4 separate regions of the Homo sapiens genome follow, and regions 2, 3 and 4 are each linked to region 1. Evidence: fine-mapped expression QTL. A gene starts in region 1. Each other region holds a variant in brackets. All regions are shown on one strand. Distances are from middle to middle.

Region 1 (8,106 bases):
TAATTGAGTGCATGTGTGTAATATAATTGTTTATATTAATATTACATGTATATATACATGCCCTATATATATATACACTCATATATATATATATATATACACTCATATATATATATATATATATATACACACACACAGAGTCATGTCATATAATGACATTTTGTTCAGTGATGAACACAGCCGTGGTCCTATAAGTTTATAATGGCACTAAAAGATTTCTGTTTCCTAGTGACATTATACTCATCCTAATGTCTTAGTGCAGTGCAATTACTCATGTGTTTGTGGTGATGCTGGTGGAAGTAAACCTACTGCACTGCCAGTCTCGTAAAGGTATAGCAATACAATCACATACAGTACCAAGTACTTGATAGTAAAGACTAAGTACTTGAGAAAGACTATGTTACTGGCTTACGTATTTACTATACTTTTTATTTTAGAATGTACTCCTTCTACTTATAAAAAAAATAGTTAACTGTAAAATAGCCTCAGGCAGTCCCTTAGGAGGTATTCCAGAAGAAGGCCTTATTTTTTATATATATATATTTTAATGTTTTGGGACAGGGTCTCACTCTGTTGCCCAGGTTGAAGTGCATTGGGCGATCTCGGCCATGATTCATGCATGTCATGGCCCCTGAAGACCTTTCAGTAGACAAGATATGGAGGTGAAAGGTGGTGATATCGATGATCCTGAGTCTGTGTAGGCCTAAGCTAATGTGTCTGTTTGTGTCTTCATTTTTTTTTTTTTTTTTTGAGACAGGCTCTTGCCCTGTTGCCCAGGCTGGAGTGCAGTGGTGCTAGCTCAGCTCACTGCAACCTCCACCTCCTGGGCTCAAGCAATCCTCCCATCTCAGCCTCCTGAATAGCTGGGACCACAGGTGCACACTGCCACACCTGGCTAATTTTTGTATTTTTTATAGAGATGTGGTTTCACCATGTTGCCCAAGCTGGTCTCATACTTCTGGACTCAAACTATCCTTCTGCCTTGGCCTCCCAAAGTGCTGGGATTATAGGTGTGAGCCAGCATACCTAGCTGTGTCTTAACTTTTAACGAGAGAGTTTAAAAAGGTTTTTAAAAAGTTTTTAAATAGAAAAAAAAGCTTAGAGTATTAGAATATAAAGAAACAACATATTTTGTGTTTGTGTTTTAAGGTGTTATTACAAGAGTCCAAAGTTTTTAAAAATTTAAAAGTTTGTAAAGTAAAAATGTTACAGAAAGCTAAGGTTAGTTTGTTACTGAAGAAAAAAATATTTTTTATAAATTTAATGCAGCCTAAGTGTACAGTGTTTCTAAAGTCTATAGTATTCTACAGTAATGTCCTGGTCTTCACATTCACTCACCACTCACTCACTGACTCATCCAGAGTAACTCCCTGTCCTGCAAGCCCCATTCATGGTAATTGTCTTATCCGGGTGTCCCATTCTTCATCTTTTACACTACATTTTTACTGTATCTTTTCTATGTTTAGATATGTTTGGATAGACAAATACTTACCATTGTGTTATAACTGCCTACAGTATTCAGTACAGTAACATGCTGTATAGGTTTGTAGCCTAGGAGCAATAGGCCGTCCCATACAGCCTAGGGGTGTTGGATGCTATGCCATCCAGGTTTATCTATGAAGTTTGCAGGATGACAGAATCACTTAATGAGCATTTCTCAGAGTGTATCCCTGTTGTTAAGTGACAAGTGACTGTGTATACACACACACACACGCACACACCACACGCACACACACACACTACAGGAAGATACAGCCTTAAAATGACAATGGACTGCTGTGTAAAAGGAGTTTTAGAGAAATATAATGTGTTCTTGGAATTTTGAAACATGATAAATGAAACATGAGCCAAAGGTTAGAGCAGGATAATAAATTGGAAATGGCTGAACACCAAGTTGCAAATCTGGAAGCTAAAGCTGGGGAAATCTCTCAGGACTTACTTGAAAAAGACATAAATGGAAACTCACAGAAGAACTGGAGCCAGAAGCTACGGACAGTGGTTACCTCAGTGGAGTGAGAAGGCCTGTGATTTCACTGATGGCCCTTCTGAACCATGTGAATTTCTTCCTTCACCACATGCAGACATCAGTTAATAGGACAGATTAAAGTTGCATGCTAGCTGATGGCTGCCGGGGAGGCAGGAATACTCAATTAAGCGCGGCACAGTTCTCGTGGGTTCTTGTTGAATAGTGCAAGTTGGGAGTCCGGTCTTGTTCACCGTTTCCCTCTGTTCTCTAGGAGTGGGCAACCACTCTCATGGATGGCTCATACCTATTACGTGAGCTGCCCTGTGATAACTCACTGTCTCCCTTCTGTCTCAGAAGGCCTGCCTTTCCTTTGCCCTAGTTGTGAGGCATTTGGAATTCAGCCAATCTGCAATGCTGAATGTGGAGGAGGATCCATGTGACATGGTTGGAGCCAAGGTGTTGAGCAAAGCCTCATCTGTCTGGACAAACTTCAGTCCTCACAAGCAAGCAAGCTATGCCCAAGCTTATGTGCAATGCTTTGAATGGGCAGAGGTCAGTCTGACAGTGACAGTGTGAGAACGATGTGGAGCTGGGCCTGGGTGGGGAGAAGGTGCCCGTCCTCCATGAGTCTAAGTGGAGTGTACCCTTTTGACTCACAGATCCACGTATTCCTGTCACCAGTTGGTGCATGAAGGCAATACAGTCTCCTGAGTTTCTACAATACCAGGTCTGTCATTTAGTTGTCCTTGTTTTTAAGTGAGAGTGAAGTTCACTATTCTGAGGTCCAGGGAGGGGTGAGGAATTCCAGCATTAGGTTTGGCCTCAGGAAGAGGGACTGGGAGAATTTGATAATGGGGAGTGCGGTAGGCTGAGTTGTAACATGGTTCCCAAAGTCCCCACCCTCATGTACATACTCTGAATAGCATCTCCCCTTGAGTGTGGGATACTCCTGTGAAGACAACAGGGTTTCAGTGTGAACAGGCAAAAAGGGACTTTGCAAATGTAGTGAAGGTCCCTGATCAGTTCACTTTGAGTCAATAAAAAGGAGATTATCCTGAGTGGGCTTGACCTAATCGGGTGATCCCTTAAAGGAGACAAGAGGCAGCAATAGACATCCTCCTTCTGGCCTTGAGGAAGTCAGCTGCCATATTTTGCTCTTTTTTTTTTTTTTTTCCTTTTGTAGAGACAGTCTCCCTATGCCACCCAAGCAAGTCCGGAATTCCTGGCTCAAGCGATCCTCCTGCCTCTGCCTCTATGAGTACCGGGAGAACAGGTGTGAGCCGCTGCCCAGTCATATTTTGATTGACACTCTCCAAATGTGAGAGTGGCCTCTAGGAGCTTGGAGTGACCCCTGGCTGACAGCCAGCAAGAATATACAGACCTCAGTGTTACAGCCCAGCTGGATCCTGCCAAGCACCAGTGAGCTGGAAGAGGATCCCCAGCCTCAGATGAGCCTGCAGCCTGTGCTGATGCCTGGATTTCAGCCTGGGAGACTCTCAGCAGAGGACTCGGCTCAAGGCTGTCTACAGTCCTGATCTACCAGAACCATGAGATAATAAACAGGCATTGTTTAGGTAGTGAAATGTGGTTACACATAAATAGGAACCCAGTGCAGCGTAAGATGCCCTGGCATATCAAGGGCGGTTCATGAGTGGGTGCCTTCAGCTTGGGAGGAAGCAGGCATAGGGCTGATGCATCGCAGTGTCCACATATGCAGGGAGGCTGGTTTCCTAGGAAGCCTCCCAATGAGGAAATTGTTGGGAATGTGCTGCAAGGCGCTGCCTCGCTCTGGAGCCAGACGAGAGGCCGGAGCATCCGCCCCAACATGGCTGGCTGTGTGAGCCTCAGGAACGCTGGCAGCTCTGCAAGACTCTCTGCCATCTGCAAAATGTGGGTGAGCATATCCCCCCAGCCACACAATTCTTGGGGATGGAGTGAGACAATTCTTAGAAAGCTCTAGTTGCAGTGCGGGTGCACAGGAAGGGCTCTGTGCACACTGATGCATGTTGCTCTAGCTCAAAGTGTCCCTTGAGCAGCTGGGGTGTGATCTCCAAGTGCACCCACCAGCCGGTCTCACCTGGCCTGGGCTCCGAGCAGGGGTCAACCTGAGGGCATTTCACTCCAGATCCAGCATGGGTTTGAGGAAGGGGCCAATGAGGGGCCAGTGGCCACAAAATAGCACTTGATTCTGATCATAAGCCCAGTCACTAAGAGGCGGGTAAAAAGAAATGCATTACCCATTTGACAAATTTTCTATGGTGAATGAATACAAATACTGGGTTACAATGAGCACTTGGCTAGCTGGCTAAAGGTAGGGCCCCAAATAGGGGGGCTGAATGGAGGTGAGAAGCCTGTGACCATTGCTGAGGCATGGGCAGGGACTCGGGCACACACGTGTGGGCAGCTCCGTGGTGTTAACCTCCAGCCTGGGTCAGTTGCTGGCCTGGGCTGACTGTGGTGACCACAGGCCAGGGGATATTGGGAGGGACTGAAAACCATGAAACAAAGCAGAACAAACTTGCCACTCCAAAACCTCACACACGGCAGGAAGTGGGCCAGCCTGGAGTTACTGAGGGGGCTGTGGCCGGGCACACCCTGTCCTACCTGAACCCAGAGTGTCAAAGACAAACAAAGCCAGGCAGTAGTGAGAGGGTCAGGAGAGATTTTTCACAGTAATAACCGTTGCAGTGGGGAAGAGGTTACAGTGTGAACTGAAGTCAGCTTGGATGTGTACAGAGGTGAGTGGATTTTTCCAAGGGAGGAGGGAGGGGTGAGGGAAGGCTTGCTGGAGTCAGGAAGTGAGAAATTGCAAAGCCCAGGAAGGAGGGGCCGGCCCCACTGGGCTGCTAACTGGCTCTGGTCGAAGTTAGCTCCTGATGTCCCACAGAGGCCGGGAGACAGGGGCCGTAGCTGCAGGGATTGGCTGGAACAGGGTATTTTTTGGCGGTCTTGAGTTTCCTGAGGTAGGGACTATAAGGGGGGCTGGTGTCATCCTAGGGATGTGGCCATGAGTTGCTAGATGCCATGTTAGTGTTAGCTGAAGTCTTTATAGGCCAGCGTGGAGGTATTGTTGAGAAGAGGACTCAGAGGAGCCTGGCTGGCAGTTGGTCGAGGAGAGATCTTAGTCTAGGGCCCCACACAGCCCAGGTTCCAGGGATGTGGGTCCTGGCCAAGTATCCCATGGGCTCCTGCCTTTGGCTCACTCGAGTGGGCCTCAGGGACTCGCCACCAAAAAATCTGAGACGCCAGCCTCAAGGATGTGAGGGTGTCACATCTGTCCTCCACAAAGAGCCCAAGCAAGATGAGAAACAGCTTCATGACCCCCATAATGAACAAGCCTTTTAATGTCAGGACAGCTGCAAGCCCTTCTTCAAGCTCTCGGCCTCACCTGTCTTCCTTATAACCACAGAAAATGTCACTCCTCCTCTGATTTGCCTTCTATACCATGCCCTTCCATCTGAGGCAATCTTGTGAAGCATTCCACGTGGTCCTCCTGGGCCAGCTCACCCTCATGACCCCTGGGCTGCAGGCCACAGCTCTCCCTGGCGGACCAGGAGGCTGGCATGGCAGCATGGATAGAAAGTGTCTTTTACCTAAGTCATCATTCATTAACTCCAGTTACATTAGAGATGTTTCCTGCTGGAAAACTTTCAGAATCATCTCTTTTTGAGAAAAAGGTGTGTGTATTTTTTTAAACAACAGCAATAGTCCAAGTCTGACTACTAAGAGCACATTTTTATTTTTAAAATTAGACATTGTGCTGAAAACAAGTTTATTAAAATATGATCTATAACCTAATTTTATTCTTTCTTATAGACATGGGGGTCTCAGTATGTTGCCCAGGCTGGTCTTGAACTTCTGGCCTCAAGTGATCCTCCCACCTCAGCATCCCGGGTAGCTAGAACTAGAGGCACACACCACTGTACCCAGCTATGACTTGGTTTTAATTGTCAAGGGAACCAGATTTGTGAAAGAACAAAAACAGTGGCATTTGTTTGTCTGGAAATGGGGCCATCTGGGTTCTCCATCTCTTGGGGGCTGTGTTTGGAAAGGAAGAGCTGTCAGTCTGGGTTCCAGGCCGATCCTCCCCGCAGTGGCTTTCTTCCTCTCTCGCCTGGAGGACATCTCATAGTTCTTGCCCTCAGGGTCCCCCCAGGCCGCCTTATCCTCCTGGCTTTTCATCCCCTGCAATGTGCCACTCAGCTGCTGAGCTTCCAGGCCAGGCCTGCAGTTTCCTGGGTACCCAGCATGAGTGGGGCTCTCAGCTGAAGGGTGGGTCAGGTGGTACAGGAGCCTCCATAACAGTTTGCTAAATATATGAATAAATAAATTATAAAACGTTAGTCCCCCTGCCAAAAAAAAAGCACAAAACACAGTTTGAGGTGATGTGTTTTTGCCCTTGCCTGAGGGAGTTGGGATTTACACAATGCCACCATTTGCAAACTGGGATCTACAAGCCCCAGCAAGACACAAAGTTTGCAAGGGCACAGGCAGTGTTAAGCAAGCTGTGTTCCAGAACCTAACACCATCTTCATGGGCAGGCCCTGATGGAGATGCAGTTCTTCCCCGCCTTCCTCCACAGCACCCAGCTCCCTCCCCAAGCAGATCTTTCCACCCAGGGCAATGTTGCATCAGCCCAGAGGAGGAAGGCCTCCCTGGCCATGGCCACAGCCCACCCACCAGAGGATATTTGCAGTGTTGGGAAAGTGTGAGAAAGTGAGTGACTAATGGCTGTGTTACTAATCTTCTGGCAAGTCAGATTGTTCTAGTTCTTTGCTTTCCATGAACTGAAAGAGGATCTAGTCAATTTATAAACTGATGGATTAGATCATTAAAAGTAATTTTTAGGCCGGGTGCAGTGGCTCATGCCTGTAATCCCAGCACTTTGAGAGGTTGAGGTGGGAGGACTGGTTGAGCCCAGGATTTCAAGACCAACCTGGGCAACATAGTGAGACCCCGCGTCTACTAAAAATAAAAATTAACGGGCGTGGTGGCACACATCTGTGATCCTGGCTACTCAGGAGGCTGAGGTGGGAGGACCCCTTGAGTTTAGGAGTTTGAGGCTGCAGTGAGCCATGATTGTACCACTACACTCTAGCCTGGGTGACAAAGCAAGACTATCTCAAAAAAATTTTTTTATGATCAATCTTCATGTAATTTTCAGCACATAACTTAGAAGGAGTGGAATCTTTACAACAAAACACTTTCCATTCAGATGTATTTACTCATGTAAAAACGTTTTTCGCCATGCTTACATATATAAAAAATAGGAATCCAACTGATACCGAATCATGTGTCATGCCACCGATAAGTAATATTCATCCATGGATACATAAAGTAATTTGAAAACAGTTTTAGTACCATTTATCTCGTTATAAGATGTGTTTCTGATAAGTGTATATTTTCACTATTAATAATTATCAAGTTATAATGTAGTCATTTTACCTTCATGAATTGAGTGTTAATAACCATGATAACTGGAATACATCATTTACAATAACTGGAAAAAGTTATTTAACATTTAGAGACATGTTGAAGAAAATTAAAATTGTAAGTTTTTATACATAGCTTTTGTAGCAAGAAACCTGATAGTGTGATGAACAGAAGAGTTTTAAGCATAAGAAATTGTTATAATAAAATTCTGTGGAGGAAGAGGAATGAAAACAGGAGTTGCAGTAGAAAAAATGGATACTTAAGGAGGAGATTGTTCACACACATTTTTTTTTTTTTGAGACAGGGTCTCACTCTATGACCCAGGCTGGAGTGCAGTGATGTGATCTCAGCTCACTGCTTCCTTGACCTCCTGGGCTCAAGTGATCCTCCTACCGCAGCCTCCTGAGTAGCTAAGACTACAGGCACCTTCTGCCATGCTCAGCTAATTAAAAAACAAATTTTGTAGAGACAAGGTCTTGCTGTGTTGCTGAGGTTGTTCTGGAGCCCCTGGGCTCAAGCAATCCTCCTACCTCGGCCTCTCAGAGTGCTGGGATAACCAGCGTGCGCCACCACGCCCAGCCATGTTCACACATTTTTAAATTTGGGGGATGGTGGGTATATAATTTTCAGGCTGTTTAGATTCCACTGGACACATTTAAAAGAGCATGTAATTTTTGTAATGTCAACATATGCCATATGCTGAAACT
Region 2 (8,106 bases), 110 kb after region 1:
CCTGAAAGGCTGGGGCCAGAATCATCAAGAGGCATCTTCACTCACACCTGCCCTGCAGGCGGGACTGACTGACAGGCTCGGCTCAGCTGGGGCTGGCCACCAGAGCTCCTACATGGACCTTCCTATAGGGCTTGGCTTTTCACAGCACAGCAGCTGGGTTCCAGGAGACAGTGACCCTAGAAGAAGAGGGCAGTGCATTGCTTTCTCAACCCAGAAGTCTTCACAACATCATTCCACCACATCCTTTGACGACAAGAAAATCAGAGTCTAGCCCAGGTTCAAGGCAAAGGGAATTAGACTCCACTTTTGGAAGGACACGTCAGATGAGAAATATTGTTGCAGCTACCTTTGGAAAACAAAGCCTAGCACAATTACCTTAGAAATTCTAGCCTAACTTATTAAAACCTAAAGTTCACATCTTTATTTTCATCCTAAACACAACTCAGTTTTTCTGACTTTTGTGCTGTGATTAATTTGCCACCTATTTTGATTTTACCTTTGATCTTGTAGTTTTAAAATCTCACAGTGTTGTTGTTTTACAAATGAATATTTATATTTTATGATATTTAATATTTCTTTTGTTCTTCAATTCATATATCTCTGACCATGTATTAGAAATTCCTTTAGTTACGGTCTGTAGGTGAGAAAATTGCTCAGTGGTAGATTTGAAAATATCTTTATTTCTTCTTTGTTTTGAGAGATATTTGTTCCAGTGTATAAAATTCCCTCTGCACATAGATGATATTATGTTACTGTCTAGGAGTAGGCTCCTTTTAATTTATTCTGTGTGGGATTCATTGGTTTTCCTCATCCCGTGGATTGTGGTCTTTAATCAATTCTGGAAAATTCTCAGAATTATCTTTTAAAATATTGCCTTGATCTCATTTTCTCTCTCCTTTCCTTCCTGAACTCTGATATGTTAATACTTCTCCTGGTTTCCACCTATATCTTGACTCGTCTTTTACATGTCCTATTTCTTCATGTTTTTGTCATACATTCTGAATAATTTCTTCAGATCCAAGTCTCAGGTCACAAATTCTCTAGCCTAATGTTAAACTTTATTTTTAGTTTATATATTTTTTATTTCTACAAATTTGATTAGATTCTTTTTCAGACCTGATTGTTTAATAAAGTCTCTTGCTCCTTATTTGTATATTCAGTTCTTTTAGTTCTTTAAACATAATACGCTGGTCTTTTTTTAATTTTAAATTTTTGTGGGTACATAGTAGGTGTATGAGCTGGTCTATTTATTTATTTATTTTTTTATATGAAGTCTTGCTCTATTGCCCAAGCTGGAGTGCAATGGCGTAATCTCAGCTCACTGCAATCTCTGCTTCCCGGGTTCAAGCGATTCTCCTGCCTCAGCCTCCAAGTAGCTGGGACTACAGGCACCCGCCACCACACCCGGCTAATTTTTGCATTTTTAGTAGAGAGAGGGTTTCACTACATTGGCCAGGCTGGTCTTGAACTCCTAACCTCGTGATCCACCCGCCTTGTCCTCCCAAAGTTCTGGGATTACAGGCGTGAGCCACTGTGCCTGGCCGAGCCGGTCTATTTTTAATTCCAGGTCTGATTTGCCCAATGTATGAATTTTTGCATGTCCAACTTTTCTGTTATCCACAGGAATGATTTGATGCCTGCCTCTGTGGGTCCTTCTGCTGCCGAGCACCAGGGCACTGTCATCAGCCAGAGATGAAATTAAGCTGAATCCTCAACTTGAGGTTTTTCTGACCACCTGGGTAATTCAAATTCGAGCTGAAAACTCTCCTGAGGGCTGGCTGGTGATCATGAATTATCAGCAGGAATGTTTTTCCGTTCTATTCAGTGCTCAGGATTGATGCGGCTAGTCCTACGGACAGTGGGTACATTTCCAGTCCACCGGGACACCCCAGGAAAAGCTCCTCCCTGTCCCGCAGCGTTGGAGAGGCTGTGTCCCAGGTCCCAGTGTGGGCTGGCTCTGCACTTTTCCCTGCACCATTGGCCCTGGAATTCCAAGGCTGGAGATCCCTGGGTTTGCCAGATGCCCTCAAGGCAAAACCAGCTCATCTCCTAGGTTCCAATTTTCACTGGAGTTTTGGTCGCTGAATCTTCTGCTTCACTTGCCAAATTATTGCTGCCTGTAAAAATATCTCTCCCACATTTTTTTTCGGCAGTTTTACTTGTTTTCAGCTGGGCGATCTGCCATGGTATCTAGATTGCCTTATTGTACCAATGTAAATTTTGGAAGACTGCTGGGAAAACAGTCAGCAAGCCTTAGTTTCTTATGAGAATGAAATTTCAAAGTACAATTGGATCTCCATATCTGTGGGTTCTGCATCCACCGATTCAATTGCAGGCTGAAAATAGTCATAAATAAAAATAAAAAATAATAGGACAATAAAACATAATAAAAGTAAAAATATAGTATAACAAATATTTGCATAGCATTTATATTGTATTAGGTATTGTAAGTTATCCACAGATGACATAAAGTATATGAGAGCATGTGTGTAGTTTATGCACAAATGCTACATCATTTTACATAAAGAGCTTGGGCATCTGCAGATTTCGGTATGCGCTAGGGTCCTGGAACCAATCCTCCCTCGGTACTGAGGGATGACGTTCTACATTAAATTTTAATAGGTAATGCAGCATTTCCTACTGTCTGTCTTCCCATTCATAATGGTCCATGACAGTAATAACCATCGTTTGCAAATAAGAAAGACAACGCTGGGTATTAATCATTTTTAAAATAACCTCTTATGCGGCCTGCTCTATGTTTGGCTACATGGAGAGGGATATCATTGGCTGGAAGTGTTTGACAGGTAGATGATTCTTAGGAACTCTGAGTTTGTAGGTTTGTCCTGTTAAATGCTCTTAGTCGGTCACATTTGTAATTAGCTGGAACTTTCTGTTTTATGTCTAAAAAGTCCTTCGATAATTACACTTGGAATAAAGGTTTGCATTTTTTAAAAATTGAGATCATGGAAAGACATATCAATTGCAAGAGTTGTATAAAGTCGAATTGACTGAAATTTACCTCACAACTAAAAATAACTAATTTCTTTACCAAAAGAAGCCCACCTATTTGTATTTTATTTCCTGTTTCTGTATAACTACATACAAACATAATAAACATACTAAATATAATAAATTAGTAAACACATAAACATAGTAAAATTAATGCCAGTTTACTGCCATATGCTGCGTAGGAGTAACAGATGCATCTGCCCAACCTTTTTTTTTTTTTTTCCTTT[T/C]CAGCCCAAAAACTACTTAAAAATTAATCATATCAAAACAAGAGCATCCATGAACCAACTTCTGAGAATTGCTGTTGCTGAGAAAGGCCTAGTGAGCCCCTGTTTCCTCAGGCCACCTTCCTCTTCCTCCCATTGCCAAGGGCTCCTGTCGCCCCCGTCTGCGTTCTCCTGCCTGGCGCTCTGTCACCTCCTGTGGAGGCCCCACGTGTTCATCTGAGGGCTGCTGCTGCCCTTCCAGTATTATCCACACCTGCCATTATTACTGGGTCTTGCTCTCTGACAAAGGGGCTACAGCGCTCCTTCCTGGTACACATGCAGCCCTCCTGCCCTTGCTCAAGGACCGCACCTCAACAGGGCACCTGCTCTCATCTGGCCATCGCCTCGGCATAGGTAGCTCAAGATAGATGTTCAGCCCCAAGCCTCATGGCTGACTAACCCTGTGGAACTTAAAAGTTCAAAGACAGGGATGCCTGGATTCTGTCTCTGCCTCTGCACGTGTGTCTGTGCAGGCATCCGAGCTGACCGGCCAGCTTCCCGCTGGTGGAGGTGGGAGGCATAGGCTGCTTCTACACGCCCAAAGCCTACCCACTACAGAGTTACTTGCAGTCACACATGCTGACTAAGGGAGGAGAGCAACTCCAATCAAACGAAGCTAAGGAAGATAGCACACAAACTGGCAAGAAATTCCTGAGGTTTGCTACTTCCTATGATGGGGACAAATTCAAATGATACAGCTTTGAGAGAAAGGTGTTACATGGAACATAGGGTGCCTGCTGTGAGTTGCTTTTAGAGGTGAAAGGAGTAGATTCGCACAGACAGCTGCAGGAGGGACAGGCGGACTCCACCATCATTGGTGGAGGGGCCGGAGCCGAAGCAGCCCCCCAGGGAGTTGGTATTGCCTAGGGAAATGAACGTGGGAGAGAAAAATCCTGCCATTCAAAGGATGGTGATCCTTGTCTCCACACACCCTCACCTACCCCTGCCAAAGCAGCAGCTATTCGTTTGTTGTCACTGTTGCACTCTTCCAGTGACCTAAAGCAGCAACTTCTAAATGTGTAATGGAAAACAAGCAGTGCAGCTCAACAGCTTGTGGTTTCTGGGGTCTCTGCAATTGAACTAGGCTATCTGCTCTTTGAGCCTGGTTGCTAACCTGTGTGCTTCGTGCTCCACGTACTCCAAATGCAGGGAAGGGCAGGGTTACTCCACGCTCCTGGGACTGAACTAACGCATATCACGGAGAACAGAAGACTGGCTTCTTCGTGGTTGTTGGAGACAGAGTCTGGCTCTGTCACCCAGGCTGGAGCACAGTGGCACTATCTTGGCTCACTGCAACCTCCACCTCCCGGTTTCAAGCAATTTTCTTGCCTCAGCCCGAGTAGCTAGGATTACAGGCATCCGCCACCATGCCTGGCTAATTTTTTGTGTTTTAGTAGAGACAGGTTTTCACCATGTTGCCCACACTGGTCTCAAACTCCTGAGCTCAGGCCATCTGCCCTCCTCAGCCTCCCAAAGTGCTAGGATTACTGGTATGAGCCACCGTGCCCAGCCAGAACCCTGGCTTCTCATCATCAGGAAAGAACTGATCAGACAGAACCAATCCAAAGATTCAGTGAGTTGCCCAGGTGGTTTACAAGGACATGCAATGTTTGGGAATACGTGGCGTGAAATGCAGATTTGCCAGAGCCCAGAGAGCCGCAACCAGTACAGTTGCAGATAAAAGATTTTCAGAGGCCAGATTTTCAGCGCTCTGCAGTTTTAAAAACCAAATGCACATCTTTCTTTAGATTTGAATAAATACACATTTTGGAAAACACAAGCAACACGGCTGGGATGCATCTTAAAACAACATGACGTGAACTCCACGAATCTGAACAGAATTAAAACCTTTGCCCTTTCTGGTTTGAAAGCCTTGCGCTCATGCTAAAAGTGCAGTGGAGTGTGCGCACTCACACCCAAACTCTCCCCCACACGTACACTAATACACACTCAGGCCCACTCACCGGAACACATTCAGGCTCACAGTCACATACTGTGTCCAGCATTGAAATCCCAGTGGGTTTTTGGTCTTGCTGACTTCAAGAATAAAGTCGTGGACCCTCGAAGTCAGTATTACAGCTCTTAGAGATGGCCTGTCTGGAGTTCTTTCCTCCAGATGTTCAGATGTGACCAGAGTTTCTTCCTTCTGGAGGGTTCCAGGTTTTGCTGACTTCATGAGTGAAACCGCAGACCTTTGCAGTGAGCGCTACAGCTCTTAAAGGTTGTGCCTCAGGTAGCACCTCTGGCGTTGTTCCTTCCTCCCAGTGGGTTTGTGGTCCCGCTGGCTTCAAGAGTGAAGCTGCACATCTTCCTAGTGAGGGTTACAGCTCTTAAATGTAACACAGACCCAGTGAACAGCAGCAAAATTTATTGCAAAAAGCGAAAGAACAAAGCTTCCACATCACAGAAGGTGACCCAAGCAGATTGTTGCTGCTGGCTGGGGGTGGCCAGCTTTTAGTCCCTTATTTGACCCCACCCACATCCTGCTGATTGGTCCATTTTACAGACTGCTGATTGGTCAATTTTTACAGAGTGCTGATTGGTGCGTTTATAATCCTTTAGCTAGACGGAAAAGTTCCCCAAGTCCCGACCGGACCCAGAAGCCAAGTCAGCTTCACTTGTCAATACTCACATTCACACTCTGATGCTCTCGGACCTGAGGCCGGGCAGCATCCCTAGCAGCATGACTCCAAGGGCAGTCGGTCCGTGAGCCAACTGGCAACACTGGGGGGCACCAACTGTGTGCCAGGCATTGGGCTAAGGGCCAGGGAGATAGTGTTGCATGGACTAGAAGTGGTTTATCTGTGGCCTAACAGAATTACAGGGAGGACAAGCATTAAAGAAAGAGTGACAAGTAATCAAATGTATCATTACACGTATGTGACAGGCCAGCACGGAGCATGTGGTAATGAATTCAAGAGTGTGGGGAAGGTTTCCCCCAGAATGTACAAGGTCTTGGTGTCTCCATAAGAAGCGAGTGTTGAGATTTGAGGGGGCCTTGAATAGTACTGGACAGTCCCGGGATAGCCTTGGCCAACCGGCTATCTCCCCACTTTACTTCTTGCCTGTGGTTTGCAGAGTAAGTGTGGCGTGTGCTGGGAATGCAATATCCTGAGACAGGGAGAAACTGCCCAGAACAGTGGGCCTTGTTCCTGCCCCTCCTAGGGAAGGTGATATCTTGGGGAGGGGCTGTCTTAGACAGCCCAGGCTTAGTTTCTCTCTCTCCCGGAAGCAGCACGTCCTTCAAAGCTGTTAAAATAAAAACTTCAGCTAGACGAATTAAATTGAAAGGAATTTAATTGAGCAATGAACAATTTGCGAATCGGGCAGCCCCCAGATTCACAGCAGATTCAGAGAGACGCCAGGGGTGTCTCGTGGTCACAACAAATTTATAGACAAAAAAAGGGAAGTGACAAACAGAAATCAGCAGTGAGGTACAGAAACAGCTGGATTGGTTACAGGTTGGCGTTTGCCTTGTTTGAGTAGTTTGAACACTCAGCAGTCTGTGAGTGGTTGAAGTATGGCTGCTGGGATTGGCCAAGACTTAATATTGTTACAAGCACATACTCCTTAGTTAGGTTTTCAATCTTTGCCTATTAAGCTAGGTTATAGTTCATCCACAAGGACTCAAATATAGAAGTATGGAGTCCTTCTCAGGCCATATTTCGTTTGCTTTAGCAAAGCTTTTCCTAGTGAGCCACGTGTCCCCTGAGTTCTAGAACCCAGGGTGGGCTGCCTGCCAGGTTTCCTCAGCTGTAGTGGAAGCGGGGCAGATGAAGTCGAGACTCCATCTGCTCTGGGAAGGCTTCTTGAGCCTTGGGGGACTGGCTCACAGTGGAACCTAGTCTTCTTTCGTCCCCTGCTCCCTATCTGTGAGTAATAAACCTATTTCCTATAACCAATTGTGAGTGTGTTCTGTCTCACTCGTCTTGGGCAGTTGGTAGCATTGCACTCCAGGGAGCAGAATTGCTTGGACTCCTGTTTCTGATGGTTGCTCTCCTCCATGCAGTGGAGTCCTCCCTTGGGATTGGATTGGTTGTTGGTGAACCTGTTTCACAAATAGAGAGTGGACAGAGGAAGGGGCTGCAGGGAGATCACAGCTGAGGTGGTGGCCCCGGGGGTTCCCACTGCTGGAAGGCTGGTGGTGGTGGCAGATGCAGCCTGTGTGATGAATGGCAGCCATGATGCCCACCGCCCCTGTGCTTTGATTTTGTGAGTTGCCCTCACCTAATGCCTCATCGCACGACACCTTTCTCTGCAAACAGTGGCATCCTCCAGCTGTGTGGTGGGACTGGGAGGTCCTAAAAGCTGGGTGTTGAATACTTACTGATGTGACAGCTGACCACTGTGGTTGGGAGGTGTCCTTTCTCTCAGTGAGAATAATTTGAGAATAATCAAAGCCTGCTTGAAAGATGTGCCTATTAAATGAATAAATCTGCTTTCATTCATGGCTCAGCTATACACTCAACTGTAAGGTACGAGGCAATTTATGTTTCTGCCTTCAAGCAACTCTGCCTAGCAAAGCAGATTAGGTATGTGAACATGGTCCCAGTCCATTTTGTGCTGCTATAACTGAATGCCACAGACTAGATAATTTATAAAGAAAGGAAACTTATTTCTTACAATTCTGGAGGTTTGGAAGTGCCAGGTTGAGGGGCTTCATCTGGCAAGGGCCTTCTTGCCATGTCATCTCATGGCAAAAGGTGGAAGAGCAAGAGAGTACTCACTGCAAGAGATGGGGAGGGTCTGAATTCAACCGTTTTTGTCAGGAACCCACTCGCATAATAGTGAACCCACCTCCATCATGATGCAATGAATCCATCAGAGGGCAGAG
Region 3 (8,106 bases), 120 kb after region 1:
ACTCTGTTTCATTAACTTTAGGGTCCATCTTAGTTGGTAAATCATAGCGGGTTGAAGCTGTCGTTTTGTGCTGAATCAGTTCCTAGGTGAAGGTTACAAGACCAGCTGAGTCACTGTCTTGGTATGGGTTACCAGTCCAGGTGGCCACAGCTGGTCCATCAAAATGCAAGGTCCAAAAGACACTTCACATACCAGTCCTAGGTTTAACAGTAGTGACGTTCCCTACAGGAGGTTGCAATCTTGCGACCTTCGACTGCAAGACTCCTGAACCACAGTTCTAACCTTGTGTCTAATTTGTCAGTTTTACAAAGGTGGTTTCAGTCCCAGAGCAAGGAGGCGGTTAGTTTTAGGAAGGGGATGTTGTCATCTTTGTTTCAAAGTTACACTATAAACTAAATTCATCTGAAGGTTAGTTTGGCCTACGCCCAGGAATGAACAAGGGCATCCTGTGAGGTTAGAAGTAGGGTGGAATCAGCGATGTCCAATTTCTTTCACTGCCAGAATTTTTCCATGTGAGACTTCCCTCACTGCCAAAGGTGGTTTCAGAGTGGTCTAGAATGTCACAACTGTTGTGCTGAACCCGTACTGACTCCCGTAAGGATGGCAGTATGTCTGAGAGGCCAAAAAAGAAGTCCAGAGATAATAAGTGAGTCACGGGGTTTATCTGAAGAATTTACAAACACACAGGGACAGTCCAGTGGCAGTGGGCTAGACTGGAGAACTGCTACTGTTTCTAAAAAGCATGCAGTTTATATCACATTTTCACTTAGCACCTTCCACCTAGCCATCTCCACCTGGCAACCTCATTTGACCCAAAACAAAGGGCCTCAATCCTCTGTATGGCCTGCTTTCCAAAGGATGGGCCAGGGGTTTGGACATCCTTCATGGATAAGGAAAGACTCTCCAGATCTGCTACTCTTGGATTCCTTAGCTTGGGACAAGGTACACACATTCTTCTTAGGCCACAGGGTCATTCTCGGGGTAAAGTTATTGCTCTCAGGTGCATCTGCCATACAACATCCAGGTGGCTGTGCTGACAAGGTCATTTAGCCATAGGTTCTGATCCATTGCATCTGCTGAGATGAGGCAAGGTGAAGTTGTGTGAGCGGTACAGAAAGGGAGCGATTGTTGCTGCAGGAGGATAACATGGTGTCTTGCCCTGAGTAGTATCCCAGTGTGTCCACTGAGCCTGGCAGGTGCTCAGAAAACATTAGAGGAGCTGGACTTAGATGACACAGCCCATCAGCAGCATGGTCTCCGGCCTTGAGCTCTGTCACTCCTTGTTTTCTTTCTTTTCCTTTATCATTGTAAAAGTAATACTTGCTCAATAAAGGGATTTGGTAAACAGAGAAAAGTGGGGAGAAAAGAATCATGTGATCCATTTCCATTCAGTGTTTTTTTCTTTTTTCTTTTCTTTTCTTTTCTTTTTTTTTTTTTTTTTTTGAGATGGAGTCTTGCTCTGTCGCCCAGGCTGGAGTGCAATGGCATGATCTTGGCTCACTGCAACCTCCGCCTCCCAGGTTCAAGAGATTCTCCTGCCTCAGCCTCCCGAGTAGCTGGGATTACAGGCACCCACCACACCTGGCTAATTTTTGTGTTTTTAGTAGAGACAGGGTTTCACCACATTGACCAAGCTGATCTTGAACTACTAACCTCAGGTAATCCACCCACCTTGGCCTCGCAAAGTGCTGGGATTACAGGCGGGAGCCACCACACCTGGCCTTTCAGTGTTTTTTTAGAAAATTAATTTTTAAATAGGATGGTTAAAAATGTACAGTTTATACTATTTTATTTCTTAATTTTATTACTTAACAGTCTATCTTATGTTTTCAGTCTATTTTTCTAACCTTAGCATGCATGGCTGCATGGCATCCTGCAGAACAGAACTGCAAGCATGGTCACGTGTATTGTATAACATGTCCTTATGGTAGTCATAACCTGCAGAGTGACAGAGACTTTTCAGGGTTTTCTTCTATTTTCTAGGAGAACTCCAAGTTCACCTAGTATGTTTATACAATTAATTGCAGGGCAGCTACAGGATCATCTCGAGCAATGATGGCACTTCTAAAGGACCCTCTTCTTTCCTCATGAAGCAGGATTTAGCTGGAACAGAGGGCTCAAGATACGCCATCACCAAATATTCCACTTTGGCATATTCATTACTTTGAACTAAAATAAGTTAAGAATCAGCCAAAGCAGAGAAAGTGCTTTACCTCCCCCAACTGCTAAAACAAAGCAAAAAGTTCCCCTTTTGTACAGGAAATTTATACCTACAAAAACATTTCATTAGTAAAGATGGCTGTACTAGGAACAGAGATAATTTTACAACAGAGATGTTATGGGGAAGAGTCCCAATTCAGACTCCAAGAGAGGGTTCTTGGATGTCATGCAAGAAAGAATTCAGGGCGAGTTTACAGAGTAAAGTGAAAGTAAGTTTATTAAGAAAGTAAAGGAATAAAAGAATGGCTACTCCATAGGCAGAGCAGCGCCGAGTACTGCTGGTTGCCCATTTTTGTGGTTATTTCTTGATGATATGCTGAGCAAGGGGTGGATTATTCATGCCTCCCCTTTTTAGACCATGTAGGGTAACTTCCTGACGTGGCCATGGCATTTGTAAACTGTCATGGCGCTGGTGGGAGTGTAGCAGTGAGGACGACCAGAGTTCATGCTCATGGCTGTCTTGGTTTTGGTGGGATTTATCCAGCTTCTTTACTGCAACTTGTATTTATTTATTTATTTATTTATTTATTTTGAGACAGAGTCTCACTCTGTTGCCCAGGGTGGAGTGCAGTGGCACGATCTCCGCTCACCGCAAGCTTGGCATCCTGGGTTCACGCCATTCTCCTGCCTCAGCCTCCCGAGCAGCTGGGACTGCAGGTGCCTGCCACCACGCCCAGATAATTTTTTGTATTTTTTTTAGTAGAGAAGGGGTTTCACCGGGTTAGCTAGGATGGTCTTGATCTCCTGACCTCATGATCCTCCCACCTCAGCCTCCCAAAGTGCTGGGATTACAGGCGTGAGCCACTGAGCCCGGCCCACTGCAACCTGTTTCATCAGCAAGATCTTTATGACCTGTATCTTGTGCTGACCTTCTATTTCATTCTGTGACTAAGAATGCCTAACCTCCTGGGAATGCAGCCCAGCAGGTCCAGCCTTATCTTACTTAGCACCTATTCAATATGGAGTTGCTCTGGTTGAAACACCTCTGACAGAGAGACTTTTATCTGGGTAACCAGGCAATGCTTATTCACCATACATTTCCTCCCCTCTTGTTACCCTCTTGTAACCACCCAATGGGCTCACCTTGCCTGCTGCCTAGATAGAACCGATTTATCGAGACAGGGGAACGACAATGGAGAAAGAGTGATTCACACAGAGCCGGCTGTGTAGGAGACCAGAATTTCATAGTTACTCAAATCAGTCTCCCCAAGCATTCGGGGATCAGAGTTTTTAAAGATAATTTGGCACATAGGGGCTTGGGAGGTGGGGATTGATTAGGTTGGAGATGGAATCACAGGGGGTTGAAGTTAGGTTTTTTTAATGTCTTCTATTCCTGGGTGCCATGGCAGAACTGGTTGGGCCGGATTACCAGTTTAGCTAGTGTCAGCTGATCCATTGAGTGCAGGGTCTGCGAGATATCTCAAGTGCTGATCTTAGGTTTTACAATAGTGATGTTATCCCCAGGAGCAATCTGGGGAGGTTCAGACTCTTGGAACCAGAGGCTGCATGACCCCTAAATTGTAATTTCTAATCTTGTAGCTAATTTGTTAGTCCTGCAAAGGCAGACTGGTCCCAGGCAAGAAGGGGTTCTTTTCAGGAAAGGGTTGTTATCAATTTTGTTTTAGGGTCAAACCATGAGCTGAATTCCTTCCCAAAGTTAGTTCTGCCTATGCCCAGGAACGAACAAGGACAGCTTAAGGGTTAGAAGCAAGATGGAGTTGGTTAGGTCTGATTTCTTTCACTGTCATAATTTCCTCAGTTATAATTTTGCAAAGATGGTTTTACTCTCATAACATGTCTCCACTCTCCCCCAAAGCCCAAGCCCCTGCTCCTTTCTGTAGCTCAGGATAGGGAGAGCGTATAAGTCTCAGTCATCTAGCTGCTTTGTTGAGTCTCCTATGTTTGTCACACTCCCTGTGAGTACGTACATAATTAAAAGTGTTTTTCTCCGGTTAATGTGTCTTATGTCAACTTATTTTGTAGACCAACGAAAGTACCTAGAAGGATAGAAGAAAGCACTTTTCCCTCCACTGTGGTGGCTATGAAAAACAATTCCCTCTAAAATTATATCAAGATGATCACATTTCTGGAACTAAAGCTTTTTCCAAAACATTTTTTTTGGGGGGTGAGGTAACCCAGGCTGGAATAAGTGGCTTTTCATCAGGAGAGT[T/C]CATAGTGCGCTGCAGGCTGGAACCCCTGGGCTCAAACTGTCCTCCCACCTCAGCCTCCCAACTGGCTGGTGCTGTAGGCATGAGCCACCATGCCTGGCAAAAATCTGTTTCTTTTTTTTCTTTCTTTCTTTCTTTTTTTTTTTTTTGAGACAGAGTTTCCCTCTTGTTGCCCAGGCTGGAGTGCAATAGCGCAATCTCGGCTCACTGCAACCTCCGTCTCCAGGGTTCAAGTGATTCTCCTGCCTCAGCCTCCTGAGTAGCAGGGATTACAGGCACCCGCCACCACACCTGGCTAATTTTTTTTTTTGTATTTTTAGTAGAGATGGGGTTTCACCATGTTGGCCAGGCTGGTCTCAAGCTCCTGACCTCAGGTGATCCACCCGTCTCCACCTCCCAAAGTGCTGGGATTACAGGCGTGAGCCTCCACGGCTGGCACAGATATGTTTCTTAATAAACATTTTCACTGCGAGAACTTCAGTGTATCAAGGTAGAGGTAGATTTTTAATATGCTGCATAGACAAATTCTGCAAAGGAAAAATGGAAAGGGTGCCCAGGAGACAGGCAGCCACGTACCTGTGATGCGTGTCATGCACCTCTGCATGGCATCCAATCGCGCCCCCTTCTCTGGCAGGACAGGAAGGAGCCTTTGCTTCGGGGCTGCGCATCTAAAATTGCCAGAGTAGGACAGCACATATTTGCAGGCTAACACAAGCATTTCTGAAAGGAAATGCATTTGGAAACTGAGTGGTATTGAAGCATCTATTTTTCTTGCTAGCAGCACAATCTGCCACCAGGAAGGTTTTAAACACTTTCCTGACAGAGAGTGCCTGCCTGAATTTTTTGGTAATTAATCATGCATAATACTTTAAATTCCACACAGGCGGCTGGCTGAAAACCCTCCAGGGATTGCTGCATTTGCTATCCGAAAGTCAACTCCTATGCCTTCGGAGAGTGAGGAAGATCAGAGAGGGGCATTTTTGCCTGTTTTAATGTCGCCATCAGTCACCAGGCAAGTCTGCAATCTTTGCTGCATCCTTCCATGGTATCGGCACAAGCAAGGCTGTAGGTATCTAATACATATTTAAGAGTATGGGATGTAATAAAATCGGGTAATTCCTTGCCTTGGCTGGCACCACAGTATTCTCAAATAGGAAGACTGGGTGCTAGGATCTGTCTGCTGTGCTTGTGTGGGCTCACTTGAAGAGTCAGATCACATCCCTCTCTTGTTTGGCCAGCTCTGTTAGAACCATGGTGGTGGGTAATTAAATGATACACCAGCGCCTCTCACCTGACAGCTTAAGAGAACGTTCACATATATTTACATATATATTTCAGATACACATATATTTCACAGTTGTAAACCAAAAGGTATGTGAGACAGGTCTCAATCGATTTAGAAAGTTTATGTTGTCAAGGTTAAGGATGCACCTGTGATGCAGCCTCAGAAGGTCCCAACATGTGCCCGAGGTGGTCCAGGCACAGCTTGGTTTTATACATTTTAGGGAGACAAGAGATAAACACTGGTTCCTTCGGTCTGCAAAGGTAGGACAACTCCAAGTGGGGAGGGGGCTTCCAGGTCTTAGGTAGAAAAGAGAAAAACAGTTGCATCCTTTTGCGTTTCTGATTAGCTCTTCATTGAATGTGCCATTTACAGGAATAGTCGCTTACGCCTTAATCTGGCTTAGTGAAACAATAGGGCAAAGGAAGCAATCAGATTTGCATTTGTCTCACATGAGCAGAGGGATGACTTTGAGTTCTGTCTGTTGTTGACGAAAAGAGTCAAACTCTGTGAAATATCTGAAGAGATTTATTCTGAGCCAAAAATGAGTGACCACGGCCCATGACACAGCCCTCAGGAGGTCCTGGGAACATGTGTCCAAGGTGGTCGGAGTGCAGCTTGATTTTATATATTTTAGGGAGGCATGAGACATTAATCAAATACATTTGAGAAATACATTGATTTGGTTCAGAAAGGCAGGACAGTTTGAAGCAGGGGCTTCCAGGCTATAGGTGAATTTAAGCATTTTCTGGTTGGCAATCGGTTGAGTTTGTCTGAAGACCTGGGATGGATATAAAGGGAATGTTCGGGGCCGGGCATGGTGGCTTACGCCTGTAATCCCAGCACTTTGGGAGGCGGGTGGATCACCTGAGGTCAGGAGTTCCAGATCAGCCTGGCCAACATGGAGAAACCCCTGTCTCTACCAAAAATACAAAAATTAGCCTGACGTGGTGGTGGCTGCCTGTAATCCCAGCTACTCAGGAGGCTGAGGCAGGAGAATTCCTCGAACCTGGGAGCCAGAGGTTGCAGTGAGCAGAGATCACCCCATTGCACTCCAGCCTGGCAACAGAGTGAGACACTCTTGGGAAAAAAAAGAAAGAAAGAAAGAAAGAAAGAAAGAAAGAAAGAAAGAAAGAAAGAAAGAAAGAAAGAAAGAAAGAGAAAAGAAAGAAAGAAAGAAAGAAAGAAAGAAAGAAAGAAAGAAAGAAAGAAAGAAAGAAAGAAAGAAAGAAAGAAATGGAATATTCAGGTTAAGATAAAAGATTGTAAAGACCAAGATTCTTTTGAAGTCTTATAGTGGCTGCCCATAGAGACAATAAATGACAAATATTTCCTATTCAGACCTCCAAAAGGTACTAGACTCTCAGTTAATCTCTTCAGGACTGGGTGGGGGGGCCTGGAAGAAAAAGATCTAGCTATGTTGATAGAGATTTTTTACAGATGCAAATTTTCCCCCACAAAGGATGGCTTTGCAGGGCCATTTCAAAATATGGCAAAGAAACATATTTTGGGGTAAAATATTTTTATCTTCTTCTTTGTCACAAAATGTTATGCCAGAGTCACATTGGAAAGTAAGTCACGATATATAGGGTTAAATAAAACCCATCTGATGAGAATTTGTGGTTTGTAGGGCATGACTCCCCAGACTCCTTAGATAGGAATTTGGGCAAAATAAGAAAAAAATCACAACTTAGCCCTGTCTTTCATCCACTGGGAATTTTCTTGCGGGAAAATTGTGAGGGAGATATGTAGCTTTTTTGTCTTTGTAGCTGTCTTATTTAGGAATATAATGGGAGGCAGGTTGGCCGGAGCAGCTCCCAGCTTGACTTTTCCCTTAGTGATTTTGGCTTAGTGATTCTGGAGTCCCAAGGTTTATTTTCCTTTCACACATTATTACCTTCATGACAGGGCAGTGTAGTGGGCCATTTCAAAATATGGCAAAGAAACATATTTTGGGGTAAAATATTTTTATCTTCTTCTTTGTCACAAAATGTTATGCCAGAGTCACATTGGAAAGTAAGTCACGATATATAGGGTTAAATAAAACCCATCTGATGAGAATTTGTGGTTTGTAGGGCATGACTCCCCAGACTCCTTAGATAGGAATTTGGGCAAAATAAGAAAAAATCACAACTTAGCCCTGTCTTTCATCCACTGGGAATTTTCTTGCGGGAAAATTGTGAGGGAGATATGTAGCTTTTTTGTCTTTGTAGCTGTCTTATTTAGGAATATAATGGGAGGCAGGTTGGCCGGAGCAGCTCCCAGCTTGACTTTTCCCTTAGTGATTTTGGCTTAGTGATTCTGGAGTCCCAAGGTTTATTTTCCTTTCACACATTATTACCTTCATGACAGGGCAGTGTAGTGAAGGAAAAAAGGGCTTCCCTTCACCCTTCTAGGTTCTTTGACTGGGCTATGAATTAGATTAACAAAAAAAGT
Region 4 (8,106 bases), 44 kb after region 1:
CTGCCTGGACATACCAACCCTGGAAAACGACAACCGCGGACAGTTCCCCAGACCTGAGACAGAGCTTTCCTCAGCTGGAAAGCCAGAGGAATACTACCTGCCGCTCCGCCTTCACCTGCGGCCCCATCTCCGTTCTAAGGCAAACTCTGACGGGCACTAAATTGGTCCTGTTCTCAGGCTAGGATAGGACAGATGACCCAGTTGCAGGCCCCAGCCTGTCCCTGGCCAGGCCTTTGTTACCACCCAGGCAACATCTTTTGAGACGAATCTTCCCTGACACTGCCGTGAGGGCCCATTCTGCAGTGCTCCTGGAACCCCACCTTTACCTGAAATTGAAAAAGAATCCTGTCCACATCTTGCAGTAATGCTGCCTGCTCCATGTACACCCCACCCCACACGTGAGGGTCCTGTCTGCTTTTGGGGGTCTGGCAGAAACCTTCATGGGCTTCTGGGAGAGGAACGGAACCTCCACTGTGGCTGGAGGCGCTGGAAAGCCTCCCTTAAGAGAGACTGCAGTGTGTTATGTGCTCACGTGCCCTCCTGAGTCATAAGGTTGTCCGAGCAAGTGGTGCTGCTTGTTCCCACTTTGCTCAGATGCACACCCTCTTTTCCTTCAATTCCTGAAGCTGAAAGATGGAAACCCAGCTCTCCCTCCATGTCCAGTATCCCACCTCCACACAAGAGACCACATTGAAATATTTAAACGTGACATTTCCAAGGTTTTGCACAGAGCCCAAGGGGAAGGATCTTAGCGTGTCTAGAAGTAGTGTGGTACTTGCTCTCACTGACTTTTAAGAATGAAGCCATGGCCCCTCACGGTGAGTGTTACAGTTTTTAAAGTTTCATGTCCCCAGTTCATTCTTTCAGATGCTCAGGTGTGTCCAGAGTTTTCTCCTTCTGGTGAGTTCCTGGTGTTGCTGACTTCAAGAGTGAAGCTGCAGACCTTGGCAGTGAGTGTTATAGCTCTTAAAGGTGTTATAGCTCTTAAAGGTGGCAGATCTGGTGTTCCTCCTTCCACTGGGTCAGTGACCTTGCTGACCTCAAAAATAAAATCGCAGACCTTTGTGGTGAAGTTACAGCTCATAAAAGAGCCGTGGAACCACACAGCAACCAGCAGAAAAGCGAAAGAATAACACCTCTACAGCGGTGAATAAAACGGGAATGGTGGCTGCTATCGGTACGGGCGGCCTGCTTTTATTCCTTTATTTGGCCCCACCCACATCCTGCTGATTGGTCATTTTACAGAGAGCTGATTGGTCCATTTTACAGAGAGTTGATTGGTCCTTTTTACAGAGAGCTGATTGGTCCGTTTTGACAGAGTGTTGATTGGCATGTTTACAAACCTTTAGCTAGATTCACAGTGCTGATTGGTGCATTTACAATCTTTTAGCTAGCCAGAAAAGTTTTCCAAGTCCCCACCCATCCCAGAAGCCAGGCTTCATCTCTCACTGGTACTCGCTGCCCAACGTTGCCGTACCTAGCCTGGGCACTCCAGCAGCCCAGAGGAAGCAGAGGAAAAGAGAGGAAGCAACAAAGAGAGGGAAACCCGCTATCGTAGCCAATGACCCCTCCAAGAGGGAAAGGCAGTCCACACAGAGGACCCTGCCTCTGATGAAGCCCAGCAGCAGCCAGTGGCACGGAGTGCGGGGCCCAGTGAGCCGGGACCCACCACGCCGGGACCCACCCTGAACCTGCGCTGGCCAGCCAGCGCTGCCCGGATCTCCTGCCCTTCCCTCGCCCTCCACACCTCCCCGCCAGCAGAGGGAGCCCACTCGGGCCTCCGCCAGCCCCAGAGAGGGGCCCCCAAAGCGCAGCTGTGGGCTGAAGGGCTCCTCCAGCGTGGCCAGGAGGCCGAGCAGACGCCCAGAGCAAGCGAGGACTGTTAGCAGGTTGTCATCTCTCAAGAGCTAAGAACAAAAATGAGATAACCTGTGTGGGCTGGCCTCTCTTGTGGGAGCTTTCCCAAGCCAGGCTAGAGTCTCTGGGATGTGGATCCATGTGGAGGGAGAAGGACTTTTACCCCTTCTCATCTGAGAGGACCTTCCTTCTGAGTTTTTTTTTTTTTCCTGAGGGTGTTTATTTCTCAAGACCATGGACCCCATTCAGTCCTCATTGCGCTGTGGTGGTCTGTGTCCCACGCCTTCCGAGCGGCCTCAGATGCCAGAATGTGAAGTCAACACAACCAGAGCAGTTGTCCTGGGAGAGTTAAGGGTCTGCTCTCAATCACGGTGGGGCAGGAGGTAAACTTTCAGGCGGTTTTTTTTTTTTTTTTTGAGACGGAGTCTTGCTCTGTCGCCCAGGCTGGAGTGCGGTGGAGCCATCTTGGCTCACTGCAAGCTCCGCCTCCTGGGTTCAGGACTTTCAGACGGTTTTTTTTTTTTTTTTTTTTTTTTTGAGACGGAGTCTCGCTCTGTCGCTCAGCCTGGAGTGCAGTGGTGCGATCTCGGCTCACTGCAAGCTCGGTTTCAGGCGGTTTTTATAGGCAAACTCCTGTGTTTGCTTTTTCTTCCCTTTCTTTGCTGTTCCTAAGCGGGTTCCTCAACTTGGGAGAGAATGTGAAGGTTGGGGAGGGGGTGTAGTTTGCTGTTTGGGAATGATTCTGCTATATGGGCCTTTCAGCTCATGTCAGGTGGAGAGAAAGCCAGCTCTGAAATTTCCAGGCAGGAGCTACAGGCTTCTGCACAGGTGAGGGGAGATGCTGGTCGGTCCCAGGAGCAGCTGTGGCCTGCAGTTTCTATATCCCCAAGGTGGTGGGAGGGCCTGAGAGGGAATGGGCCTGAAGGAGCTGGAGGCCAGGCCCAGGGATCCTGCAGGCTTGTCCCACGTGATGGGACACCTGGCCTGGCATAGCCCTGTGTGAGCAGTGGGCGGAGGGCAGGGCAGTTCTCAAAATCAGAGACTGAACCTCCTTCCTGTCAGTAGAGATTGGGACGTCTATTCATTTTGTGGAAAATACTTAGAGAAAAATTAAAGGATGGCAGGCTCTGTCATGAGTGTCCCACCTGTGCTGCTGCACAGAGCTCAGCCCTCAGAGGGTTCCTGCTGTGTTCAATCCTCTCCTGTTGGTGTCTTAAATTTCACAATGACTTTCGCAAAGTGTCTCTGCGTTTCCACTTTGCACAGGCCCTGTAGATCCTGCAGCCGGGTCTGCTGGCTTGCTATTTCTTGCATAGTTGAGTCTGGTTTCAGGCAACGCTTGGCACCTGGCAACTATGTATTGACCACGACTGTGGCTCCTGCACAGGCCCTTTGCTGACAGTCTCTTTGGCCTTCCCACTCTGCGGGGAAACTGAGGCTGAGAGTGGGGAAGGCTTGACCAGTGAGGCCCACTCCTCCATGGTGACCCGAAAGCTCGTTCTCTCCTTGCAGAGCTGAGCCTGAGCATCCTCACATTTGCCTGCATTTGTTCCAGGGCCTTTCCCTGGGAGTTTCCAAGCTCCAGGTGGGCAGGAGGCCATGGGCGGGGCCTTTCTGCACAAACGTCTTTTCTTTTTAGTGTCTGCCCTTAAAGGGAGGCGGCTAACAATCTCCGCTCCTCACCTCCTCACCAGATCCCCGGCTCCATGCTGTCGCTTCCTGGGAGAGGCTCAGGCCAGGACACAGAACCCACACCCCACGGCCCGGACCGCGCAGAGCGTCCCCTCCACATAGGAGCGCCCCTTCTAGGAGGGCTGCCGCCCTCCTGCCCAAGCCCTCCAAGACAGGAAGGAAGCAGAACCTACAGAGGATCAGACAACAGGCTCAGGACAGGAAGTGCCGGGTCGGATGCTTCCTCCAGCCCGTGTATCCTGAGACCAGTGCCATGTGGGGCCGCCAGAGTCCTGCCTGGTGCCCAGCACTCCTCTTCCTGGAAACGCATCCCTGTTTAGCGTAGCAAAAATGGGGAGCTAGTAAACCTCGTGTCATGGGCTATGAATGGAGACATAAAACACTGAAAATTCTACTACTGCGAAAGTGAAACAGTCTTGCTCCAAATATGGCCTTGACTAAATTAATTATTAAAATATAAAGGGAAACAACTTCCTTTCACATACTTGGTTGAGAAAGCAACTAAAAAATTTATTTCTTCTCCCATGAGAAACACTACCTTTTAAGATAAAATTTATTTTCTGTATATTTGCATTAAGAGAAAATATGAAAATATTTAATTGACATTTTTTATTAAAAGACTATCAGCATTGAAAGACAAATTTCACAGGAAAAGCATTGAATCATTAAGTTTTGTAGTCACAAAGGTAAGTATAATTTGCTTAATGCTGCCCTCAGTTTACAATGGGTCTTTAGTATTTTCTAAGCTATAATGTGAGTTTGCCAAAATATAGCATTGGTTTGCTACATAGAATTTGCTCAGTGATAAAACACAAAGGAGTTACTTATGTTAAAATGTAAATAATAAATTTATGCAAAATTTCTGAAAGTATACATTGTAAAGACAATAAATCTTTCCATTAAATTAGTGGGAAAGGAGCTCAAAACCCAGCCGGGTGATTCATTATTTTAATGACTTCCTGCTTTATTGCAAAACCTCTCTGTTCATTCGGTGTTGGCAGTTTGAGCCCCTGTTAAGGATTTAGGCTCACAATGGAGCTTCTATAAATTTCCAGATCTCTGTCATGCTGGCATGTAGGTCATTCTCCTTTTGGAATGATGAGGAGGCTGGAAAGCGGTTGCTCCAAGGGAAGGGGGAATTTTTCAAACCCGAGCTGTCCAAGCTCAGCATGAATTGGAGTGGGCTGCTGACTCAGGGGCTAACAGAGGCAGCCAGGAAACATGCAAATGTGCAATCCCTTCTGCCAGGTCTGTCCCAGCAGGTGTCACTAAAAGGCAGCCCTGTGTGCTTCTGTCACTGTGGCAGCCTTGACAAGGAAGGTGGAAGGGAAAAGAGACCCAGTGCTGAACTCCAAGCAGAGATGGGGCTTTTCTCTCTGC[A/ATT]TTTTTCCCCTCCCCTCCCAGCCTGCATTTCCAATAACATATTGATTTACATTTGTATTATGAAACAAAAATGGTTGTAAGCAGCTGTTCTTTCCTTTTACACACAATGCTAGCTCCTATTTACATTCCTAACTGAACAATGTCTAAAGAGGTACTTAAACTGACATGAATCACAGATGATCTTATGACCAAATGCTTAGTGCAAAAAAACACTTCAAATTGCAAGAGGAGTCCCTCTAAATATAGAAAGGACCAGTATTTTAAGAGATATGTTAACTAAAATGTGGCGATGTAAGGAGTAGAGCAGGAAGAACCTTTAGGTCCAAAACTTACAAGTCAATTTCATAGTTTCCATGGTCCTCCCTCTGGCATCTGTTTTCTGTACAATGGAGGTAACAATAGTAGCTATTCCAGAGCAGGAAAAGGCTTAGAGCAGTGCTAGAATACTGTCGTGGCTATATAAAGTTTAGCCATTTGTGTATCATAACAAATCTACAGTGTATTTTTTTATTGGTAGTCAATAATAGATTTCTTTTGGAGAAGTAGCAGCCTCCTGTCTGGGGACACCTGCAGTTCCCACTAAGTGAACACTGGTGTCTGCTAACTTTTGCCCCTATTTCTGTCAATAATTACTGTCAAGCTGTTCCTTGATTTAGCAATTTTATTTACTTTCTTTTTTTTTCTTTCCCTTTTCCTGAGACAGAGTCCCGCTCTGTCGCCCAGTATGGAGTGCAGCAGCGCCATCACAGCTCACTGCCACCTTGACCCCCGGGCCCTCGGGCTCAAGCAATCCTCCTACATCAGCCTTCAGAGTATCTGGGATACCCGTGCGGCCCACTATGCCTGGTTAATCTTTGTGGTTTTCGTTTTGTTTTTCCATTCCGGGTCTTGACTGGGAGTGTTGGCTCACGCCTGCAATCCCAGCACTTTGGGAGGCTGAGGCAGGCGGAGCACGGAGACCAGCCCAAACAGTATAGAGAAACCCCATCTCCACCAAAAAAAAATAAAATAAAAATACAAAATTAGCCGGGCATGGTGGCTCACGCCTGGAATCCCAGCCACTTGGGAGGCTGAGGCACGAGGATCACTTAAACCCGGGAGGCAGAGGTTGTGGCGAGCTGAGATCGTGCCACTGCAACAAGAGATCCAGCCTGGGCGACAACAGTGAAACTCTGTCTCAAAAATAAATAAATAAATGAAAAGAAACAGACCAGGTTTCACCAAGTTGCCCAGGCCAGTCTGAAACTCCCAAGCTCAAGCGATCCGCCATTCTCGGCTGTCCAAAGTCCTGGGATTACACTGTGAAGGTTAATTTTATATGCCAACTTGACTAGGCCACAGGGTGCTCAGATTAAACATAGTTTCTGGGTGTGTTTGTGAGTGTTTCCAGATGACATTAGCTTTTGAGTCAGTGAATTCAGTAACATAGATGGCCCCATGGAGATGGGCATCATCCAACTTGGTGAGGGCTTGAGTAGAACAAAAGGAGGAAGGGGGAATTTGCCCCCTTTCTTTCTACCTCTTTGGGTGTGCTGGGACATCCCATCTTATCTTCTCCTCCCCTGGGACTGGGATGTACACCATCAGCTCTCCTGGTTCTCAGGCCTTCTGACTTGGACAGAATTAAATCACCAGTTTTCCTGAGTCTTCCAGCTTCCAGATGGCAGCTTCTTTGCCTTCATAATCATGTAAGCCAGGACCCCATAATAAATCTCTTTTTAAGAAAATGTGGCACATATACACAATGGAATACTATACAGCCATAAAAAGGAACTAAATGATGTCCTTTTCAGCAACATGGATGCAGTTGGAGGTCATGATCCTAAGCAAACTAACACAGAGACAGAAAACCAAATACTGCATGTTCTCACTTATAAGTGGGAGCTAATAATTAAGTCCTAATTCCTAGAACCTGTAGATATTACCTCATTTGGAAAAAGCATATTTTCAGGTATGATTAAGTTAAAGATCTTGAGGAGAGATTATCCTGGATTGTCTCCGTGGGCATTAAATCCTGGCACATATATCCTTATAAGAGGGAGATAAAGGAGATTTAACTTCAGACAGAAGAGGAGGAGGCCCTGTGACCAAGAAGGCAGAGCCTGGAGTGGTGGAGCTGCAAGACAATGAATGCCAGCAGCCATCAGAAGCTGAGGAAGTCAGAGGATGGATTTTCCCCTCAGCCTCTGAGAGCATTGGCTCTGCTGATACTTAGATTTCAGGCCAGTGATACTAATTTTGGACTTCTGGAATCCAAACCTGTGAGAAAATATAAATTTCTGTTGTTTTGAGTCATGAAATTTTTGGTAATTTGCTATAACAGCCACAGGAAACTAATATACATGTTTACCTGGGTCCAGTGTGTCCTGTGACTCCTGCTTTCCTGGGACAGGCAGGCTGCGCCATGCCTGCTGGCCACCCTCCTTGGTGCTGGACGCTGCAGGCTGCTCCATGTGTGTTGGCCATTTCCTTTGGTGCTGGACAGCACTCACATGAAATCCACTGGCCCTGTGAAAAACACCTGCAAATGTTACCAGGACAGGGGTTAATTCTTCTGTTGGCAACTCTTGGTATTGCTTATGCCTTAACATCTGTGCCTCCAATATCCCTTCTCTCTGCCTTCATTGAAGCCAGGAAAGCAGTCACCTTTTGCCTTTCTTTGCCTCTCAGCAAGTGGCATGTCTCCATGTCACTTTAAGCATCAAGCACACAGAGCCCAATAAGATGCTGAGAAGTATCTGCCTACAAGGTGCTGGAGACATTCTGAGCCCGGTATCTCCAGGGGTCAGGAAAACAGCTACAGGAAACCTAAAGTTCAAAATGCTGAAGTGAAAAATGGGTGATCACAAAAGGGAAACACAAGCCCCTTCTTTTAAAAATATTATGGTGATAATGCACAACATAAAATTTACCATATTAACCATTTGTAAGTATACAGTGCAGTAGTGATAAGTATATACATTTGTTGAGTAATGAGTTTCTAGAACTTGCTCCTCTTGGAGAACTGAAACTATATCCACTCTACAACAACTCCCCATTTCTCTATCCCCTGGCTTCTGGAAACAACCATTTTATTTTCTGTTTCTATGAGTTTGACTAATTACGAACCTAATGTAAGAGAAATCATACACTATTTGTCTTTGTGTGACTGGCTCATTTCAACTAGTACTAGTGTAA

Which allele goes with the higher level. Positions count from the first base shown, and alleles are read on the strand shown. Sizes are in standard deviations (SD) of each study's normalised expression. Not every link is listed here.
In carriers of allele ATT in region 4, the expression in subcutaneous fat of the gene that starts at base 3,654 in region 1 tends to be higher than with A alone (moderate effect, 0.43 SD a copy in FUSION).

Evidence for each region. PIP is the estimated chance that this variant, and not a neighbour inherited with it, causes the effect.
Region 2: its variant is the best candidate, but not a certain one, in a credible set for the expression of LINC02346 in subcutaneous fat (TwinsUK, PIP 0.66).
Region 3: its variant is the best candidate, but not a certain one, in a credible set for the expression of LINC02346 in nucleus accumbens (GTEx, PIP 0.57).
Region 4: its variant is the best candidate, but not a certain one, in a credible set for the expression of LINC02346 in subcutaneous fat (FUSION, PIP 0.72).

What each region holds. Positions count from the first base shown.
Region 1 is chr15:25,898,707-25,906,812 of GRCh38, forward strand. LINC02346 (long intergenic non-protein coding RNA 2346) reads left to right here and starts at 3,654. Exons shown (of 5, transcript NR_040082.1): 1 at 3,654-3,860. RefSeq lists an enhancer at 1-176.
Region 2 is chr15:26,012,094-26,020,199 of GRCh38, forward strand. It overlaps LINC02346 (long intergenic non-protein coding RNA 2346), which reads left to right. Exons shown (of 5, transcript NR_040082.1): 2 at 3,241-3,928. Among named protein-coding and RNA genes, the nearest start is that of TRE-TTC2-2, 66 kb to the right of the region's middle. The variant T/C (reference allele first, on the strand shown) is at 3,237.
Region 3 is chr15:26,023,270-26,031,375 of GRCh38, forward strand. The region is part of intron 2 of LINC02346 (long intergenic non-protein coding RNA 2346); the gene reads left to right. Among named protein-coding and RNA genes, the nearest start is that of TRE-TTC2-2, 55 kb to the right of the region's middle. The variant T/C (reference allele first, on the strand shown) is at 4,391.
Region 4 is chr15:25,942,811-25,950,916 of GRCh38, forward strand. All of the region lies in intron 1 of LINC02346 (long intergenic non-protein coding RNA 2346), which reads left to right. Among named protein-coding and RNA genes, the nearest start is that of LINC02346, 45 kb to the left of the region's middle. RefSeq lists an enhancer at 30-530. The variant A/ATT (reference allele first, on the strand shown) is at 4,930.